Linked DNA regions of Homo sapiens. The protein of the gene in region 2 purifies or fractionates together with the protein of the main gene of each other region. This does not show direct contact. Each region holds a gene or a part of one and is shown on either strand. Other genes may lie near its edges.

Evidence for each region. Proteins that work in one complex are often made in the same cells at the same time.
Region 1: the proteins of TTPAL (region 2) and C19orf38 purify together in Homo sapiens (affinity purification with mass spectrometry; one large-scale study listed by BioGRID and IntAct). This does not show direct contact.

Annotation. Positions count from the first base shown.
Region 1 is NC_000019.10:10,851,279-10,854,930, reverse strand, and holds part of C19orf38 (protein HIDE1 precursor), read right to left. Parts: intron 1-3,652.
Region 2 is NC_000020.11:44,489,227-44,492,878, reverse strand, and holds part of TTPAL (alpha-tocopherol transfer protein-like), read right to left. Parts: intron 3,617-3,652; coding exon 3,338-3,616; 3' UTR 1-3,337. UniProt on the Homo sapiens protein: May act as a protein that binds a hydrophobic ligand.

The DNA.
Region 1 (3,652 bases), on a different chromosome or scaffold from region 2:
TGTCATTTTTCAGCACCTGGATCCAGCCATATCTGAAGTCAGCCATGTAAACTGACTTCAGCTCAGTGAACCAACAAATCCCCTCTTGCTGGTAGAGCCAGTGTGAGTCAGGTTTTTATTACTTGCAGTCTGGGTGCCAGTGGCCAGATGACATCCACCCCCAGCCCAACGGTAGACCCTGAGATCCACCCAGAAGCTAGTCACACAGGCATGGGAGTGGCAGTTCCAGAGTCACCTTCTCAGCACAAGACTTCGCTTCCCCTTCCTGGAGAAAGAGGAGATGCCCTGACCCCAAGGGAGGTGAGGAGCTAAGCCAGAAGAGGGAAGAAGACAGACGCTTGGTATTCTCACAATGTCAGCCTTGTTCATTGATTCACCTGGGGCAGAAGGGGTGTTGTCAGCTCCCTACTCCAAGGCCACAAGGCCAAGGTGAGAGAAGGGGGCCTTTGATAGAGGAGCCTGAGGCCGGGAAGGACAGAGAACTGCCCTGTCATAGCTGCATGTTGGCCTCGGCTGGCAACAAGATTATTTTTTGCAGTGAAAAAGTTCTTTTTAAAAGTTTTTTTGGGCCAGGCGCGGTGGCTCATGGCTGTAATCCCAGCACTTTGGGAGGCCGATGTGGGCGGATCACTTGAGGTCAGGAGTTGAAGACCACCCTGGCCAACATGGTGAAACCCCATCTCTACTAAAAAATACAAAAATTAGCAGGGTGTGGTGGTTGGCGCCTGTAGTCCCAGCTACTCGGGAGGCTGAGGCACGAGAATCGCTTGAGCCTGGGAGGCAAAGGTTGCAGTGAGCCGAGATTGGGCCACTGCACTTCAGCCTGGGCGACAGAGTGAGACTCTGTCTCAAAAATTAAAAAAAAAAAAAAGTTTTTACAGACAGGGTCTCCCTCTGTCACCCAGGCTGGAATGCAGTGGTGCGATCATGGCTCACTATATCCTCTACCTCCCCGGCTTAAGTGATCCACCTGCCTCAGCCTACTGACACATGCCAGCAGTCCCTCCTAATTAAAAAAAAAAAAAAAAAAACATTAGCCGGACGGGGTAGCTCACGCCTGTAATCTCAGCACTTTGGGAGGCTGAGGTGGGCGGATCACAAGATCAGGAGATTGAGATCATCCTGGCTAACACTGTGAAACCCCTTCTTACTAAAAAAAAAAATACAAAAAATTAGCTGGGCATGGTGGCACATGCCTGTAGTCCCAGCTACTCGGGAGGCTCTGAGGCAGGAGAATCGCTTGAACCCGGGAGGCAGAGGTTGCAGTGAGCCGAGATCGTGCCACTGTACTCCAGCCTGGGCGACAGACCGAGACTGTCTCAAAAAAAAAAAAAAAATTGGGGGGAGCTGGGCATGGTGGCTCACGCCTGTAATTCCAGCACTTTGTGAGGCCGAGGCAGGCAGAACACCTGAGGTCAGGAGTTTGAGAGCAGCCTGGCCAGCATTGTGAAACCCCATCTCTACTAAAACTCAAAAAGTAGCTGGGCATGGTGGTGCACGCCTGTAATCCCAGCTACTCGGGAGGCTGAGGCAGGAGAATTGCTTGAACCTCGGAGGTAGAGGTTGCAGTGAGACTCGAGAGGCTGAGGCAGGAGAATTGCTTGAACCTCGGAGGTAGAGATTGCAGTGAGCTGGGGTCACACCACTGCACTCCAGCCTGGGCGACAGAGTGAGTCCCTGTCTTTACAAAAAATAGACATATTAGCCAGGCGTGGTGGTGCACGGCTGTAGTCCCAGCTGCTAGGGAGACTGAGAAGGGAAGATTGATTGAGCCCAGGAAGTGGAGGCTGCAGTGAGCTGTGATTGCGCCACTGCACTCTAGCCTGGTCAACAAAGCAAGACCCCTATCTAAAAAAAAAATAAAATAATTTTTTTTTTTTTTTGTAGAGACAGGGTCTCACTATGTTGCCCAGGCTGATCTTGAACTCCTTGGCTCAAGGAATCGTCCTGCCTCAGCCTCCCAAAGTCCTGGGCTTATAGGCGTGGGTCATTGCACCCGGCCAGGAAAGTTCTGACTGATGGTAACACAGAAGGCCACCAAAGGCTCCTCCCTCCTGCTTCTTGACCCATAACCCATGTCCAGCCTCCTCATTCAGAGATCAGAAAAGGACATCAGCCCTGCCAGGGTTCCCTCACTCAGGTGAAAAGATCGAATCCTTGCTGTGGTCTACAAGACCCCCCACGATCCTCCTGGTGAACTCCCTGCCCCGCCTCTCCCCATTTTCCTCCTTGTTCACCATCCTTCAGCCATACTGGGCTCCTCAGACACACCAGGGAAGCTTCAGCCTCGGGGCCTTTGCACATCCTGTATCCTCTGCCTGCAACACATGCCCTGGATATCCACATGATTGGCTCCTCCTCATCATTCAGTTTTTTGCTCAAATGCCACCTCCTCAGAGAGGGCTTCCCTGATTGCCCTACTCTACTTCAGAGTCCAGAGGGCTGACCATTAGAACATGGGGCCAGTCGCCCTACTCTACTTCAAATAATGACATCCTCACCCAGGTGGATTTCATCTGGTGCCCTGCTGGCAGGTTGAATATATATTGGATTTCATGTTTATCATCTGTCCTCATCCGCCTGGAATGTCAGCCTGGAATGTCTTTGGGCAAGCCCAAAGACAGTTCTTGGTCCATAGTAAGTGCTCAGAAACCTTATGTGGCTCATGCTGGGCATGGTGACTCACATCTGTAATCCCAGCTACTCTGGAGGCCGAGGTGGGAGGATCACTTGAGGTTAAGAGTTCAAGACTAGCCTGGTCAATATCTTTTTTTTTTTTGAGACAGAATCTTGCTCTGTCACCCATGCTGGAGTGCAATGGCACTGTCTTGGCTCACTGTAACCTCCGCCTCCCAGATTCAAATGATCCTCCTGCCTCAGCCTCCTGAGTAGCTGGGATTACACACGCATGCCACCACACCCAGCTATTTTTTGTATTTTTTTTTTTTTTTTTTTTGAGACGGAGTCTCGCTCTGTCGCCCAGGCCGGACTGCGGACTGCAGTGGCGCAATCTCGGCTCACTGCAAGCTCTGCTTCCCGGGTTCACGCCATTCTCCTGCCTCAGCCTCCCGAGTAGCTGGGACTACAGGTGCCCGCCACCGCGCCCGGCTAATTTTTTGTATTTTTAGTAGAGACGGGGTTTCACCTTGTTAGCCAGGATGGTCTCAATCTCCTGACCTCATGATCCACCCGCCTCGGCCTCCCAAAGTGCTGGGATTACAGGCGTGAGCCACCACGCCCAGCCTATTTTTTGTATTTTTAATAGACATAGGGTTTCACCATGTTGGCCAGGCTGGTCTTAAGCTCTGACCTCAGGTGATCCACCTACCTCAGCTTCCCAAAGTACTGGGATTACAAGCATGAGCTACCATGTCCGGCCCTGGTCAACATTTTAGACCCTCATCTCTAAAATAATTTTTTAAATTAGCTGGGCATGGTGGTGCACACCTGTAGTCTCAGCTACTTAGGAGGCTGAGGTGGGAGGATCACTTGAGGATAGGAATTGGAGGATGAAGTGAGCTATGATTGTGCCATTGCCCTCTAGTCTGCACGACCTTGTCTCATTTAAAAAAAAAAAAAAGCCAGGTGCAGTGGCTCATGCCTGTAATTCCAGCACTTTGGGAGGCTGAGGTAGGCGGATCATGAGGTCAGG
Region 2 (3,652 bases):
TGCAAGGAAAAAAATTAAAAAATAAAGCGACCTTTGCCAAGAGCAAGTTAGAAATTCAAGACATGAAGCCAGGGTGGCACTTTTGGCTGTTTTTGTAGATTTCATCCAGTCTCTCCCCCATGAAGGCAGAACAGGGGAAGAGGCACAGTTTTCCAGAATTCCATGTTGGGATATGGGGGAAGAAGAGGAAGAAAATTCCCATATTCTGAAATGTATAGATTTGGAAGCTTTTAGGTACCAATTCATTCAGACCTAAATTTACTAAATAAGCCAATTGAGGGGGAAAAAAAAGGAAAAAAACTTCTAAAAAGAGAGAGTACAGTGTCTGTGGCAGTGAAGCCAACTAGATACCAGGAATAAAGTTTGGAGTATAGATCTCTATCATGGAATCACTCAGGGATGTTAAGCCAGCTCATCAAAGGCCACGTAGTAAGGTAAAGGTGGAGCCCGCGTCTCCTAATTTACTGTCCCATTTCCTTCCGACACCACACTATCTTGAATTTAGGGAAAAGTTAATTTCCAAGTGTTTGTGCAATGGGCCAGAACTTCTCCCTGAAGGAACATACTCCCAGTTCTTGAGGTTCATGGGTTTGCCTCACCAGTGCGCTCCCCAGTGCTGAGTAAGGCTCACTGTGCTCCCTGGCTGGTCATTCCCCACCCTGCTGAGACAGCCTGACACAAACATCCTGGTGAAGCCACAAGGAGACCACCTTGATTTTCACGCAGGGAGGTCTTGGTTTCACAGCTTGGTTCAAGTTTCCTGAGGTGTCAAAACTATCTGATACCTCTTCGGAGCCAAAACAAAGCAAGCAGCTCCCGGAGGCAGATAAACTTAGGCTCCAACTCCTTCTAGAAGCTGAGTGAAACCACTCCTTCCTTGTCCAACTGGAAAAACCTAAGAAATAGGCCTCTCCAGGTCCCTTCTGGTCTTTGAGATAATTCTCTAGGAGAGCTGTGGCCATGCCTGCATTAAAACAAATGCGACTGGCCAGGAATGCAGTGTAGAATTGAAACATCAGGGCTGAGTGATTCATTCCTCTTTACCCAGTTTTTGTTTTGTTTTGTTTATCTGTCTTCCCTCTTGGGGAAGCCTCCACCCAGTTCTCCCATCCAGGCCAGTGGGTTCTGAACCCCCTCCTTCCCTCCTTCAGCCATCCCACTTGCCCTGCTTGGGCCTTTTCAGCAGTGTGTGTCACATCATCATCAGATGGAACCAGAAGCAGCCAGGAGTGCTTTTTGGCACTTCCAGCTCAGCCAGTACCGTAGAGGATCCAGGGTTACTATCCATGGTGAAAAGAACTTTCTCTAGAATTGGTATTAATGAGGTTAAGTAACTTAATTTCCACCAACAACTTATCCAGACATTTAAAAAGGCAATAGAGATAAACAGCTTAGTAACAACAGATTGGCCTTCAAATTTCAGAGTATTGTTTTCTCCCTAACTGAGCTGTCTGCTTGACTGGTTAGTCTAATAAATGCACGGAGAAGGTGCACACACAACACAGTACTTTTCACTATTTAACACCATGATCATGTGGAATACATTAGAAAGGAAATAGGTCAAAAACCATCATGTGAACCGTCTAATTTGATGTTTGGGCTAAGGCTAAAATCTTCACAGGGAGGTTCTAAAGTGCTGAAATGCAGAACATTCAGGCTGACTGGTTCACCCACACCAGAGAGAGAAACTCAAGTGGGGCTGGGAGGGCAGGGGGGCCCAGAAGTGACCCAGGAATAACCTGCCCTTGTGTTCATTTCCAGAGACCAAAAAAAAAAAAATTTTTTTTTTTTTTTTTTTTTTTTGAGGCAGAGTCTTGCTCTGTCGCCCAGGCTGGAGTGCAGTGGTGCGATCTTGGCTCACTGCCACTTCTGCCTCCTGGGTTCACGTGATTCTTCTGCCTCAGCCTCCCGAGTAGCTGGGACTACAGGAGCCCGCCACCACGCCCAGCTAATTTTTGTATTTTTAGTAGAGATGGGGTTTCACCATCTTGGCCAGGCGGGTCTCGAACTCCTGACCTTGTGATCCGCACACCTTGGCCTCCCAAAGTGCTGGGATTACAGGCATGAACCACCACGCCCAGCTCAGAGACCAAAATTAAAGAATCTCAAGTAATTAACTACTGTAGCCAGGTTTACAATATAGTACCAGAGTCTCAGGGATGGAAGGAATTCATCATACAAGATCCTGGTCACCTTAACCTGGCCTCACAAAAGCCATCTTTTCAAAATTGAACCATCACTATAAAAAGAAAATTGGTGTCAGTGAGTCCCAGGAATACACATAATAGTTTCTTTAAAGGCAGGGCTAATTGGTGACACATCTCTCTTGGAAAGACACATGTACCACAAACAAAAACAGGATCCAACCACTTGTATCTAGATAGTTATCTTTCTAGGCAGAAAATCTAACATTCAGTAACTAAACCAAATCCCAGAGCCTCAGCAGCCAAAATGGCCCTAGCTGACATTTCATCCAGCCTCATTTTATAGAGGAGAAAGTAGAGGCCCATATCTTGTCCATAGTTGTACACCTGGGATCCAGGCCAGAATTCTTATAGCTACACGGGCCTGGGATCCAGCATTTTAGGTTGAGTAAAATCATTTCCTGCTAGGTCCCTGATTCTATTGAGAACCAGGGCTAAGGCTTTATGGATTTGGGAAAACTTAAGTTTCTATTGCAAACTTCAACCAGTGGGTCCCAGAGGTGCTTTGAAGTCTCCGGCTTCCACATTTGACCACAAAGTGCTGCTTATGTCCTGATGCTTACATGATTCAGTTAAGGTGCTTTCCAAACCCGGTGACAACAGCTGGGGCCTTCATCTCCAGTAAGTTTCCTGATGAGCAGCAGAGGTCTATACTTAGGGTTCCTGTGAAAAACACAAACTCCCAGTCTCACATTTGGTCACACTGAAGGTTTGGCCAAATTATTTCATACAAGTAGTTCTCACTGGCCAAACAGGTGGTTTTTCTCCTGGAAAAGTGGGATCAAAGTGACTTTGGTCCTGATTGTTCTTGCTTCCAAGATGTGTAAGAACCAGATCACCACCCCCCAACCAAAAAGCAAAACAAAATAGATATAGCCTCCAGATTAATAGTTGCAGACTGGGATTCCAAATGTTTAAGAATCAGTGGGGACATTTTCCATGTCTTCCATGGAGTAATTAAAGTAACCAAAGGCTTACCCCAAAATGGGCTCATGCTCATATCTCAGGCTGTTCCTCCATCCTGCAGTTTAATTACAAGGAGCAAGACTGAATCCATGGACCCTTAAATTCTCCTTGTGCCTCTCCAAAGAAAAGAAGGAAAAGAATTAAAGATGGTGACCCTGGGGGACGGGCTAGTAGCAGGAGTACAGCTGTGACTTCACAGCTCGCAAGGAGTCGTCACACTGTGCATCTGAGGTCAGGCCCTCGGGCAGCAGCGTCTGGCCCAGGATGCTGTCACAGGCAGGAACAGGTTGGCAGAACTCTTTCACAAAATCGTCTTCTGAAGCCAGCAGTACCGCGTTCCAGGTGGCAGTGTCCAGCTCCCCAGCCGTGCCCCCATACTCCTTGGGGAGGATGCTTCTTGGAAGGTTTGTGTGGAGAGAGTTCAAGTCAGACCCATGGAGGAAGAACTAAAAGGGAATGAAATGAAAACACACATGTCCTTA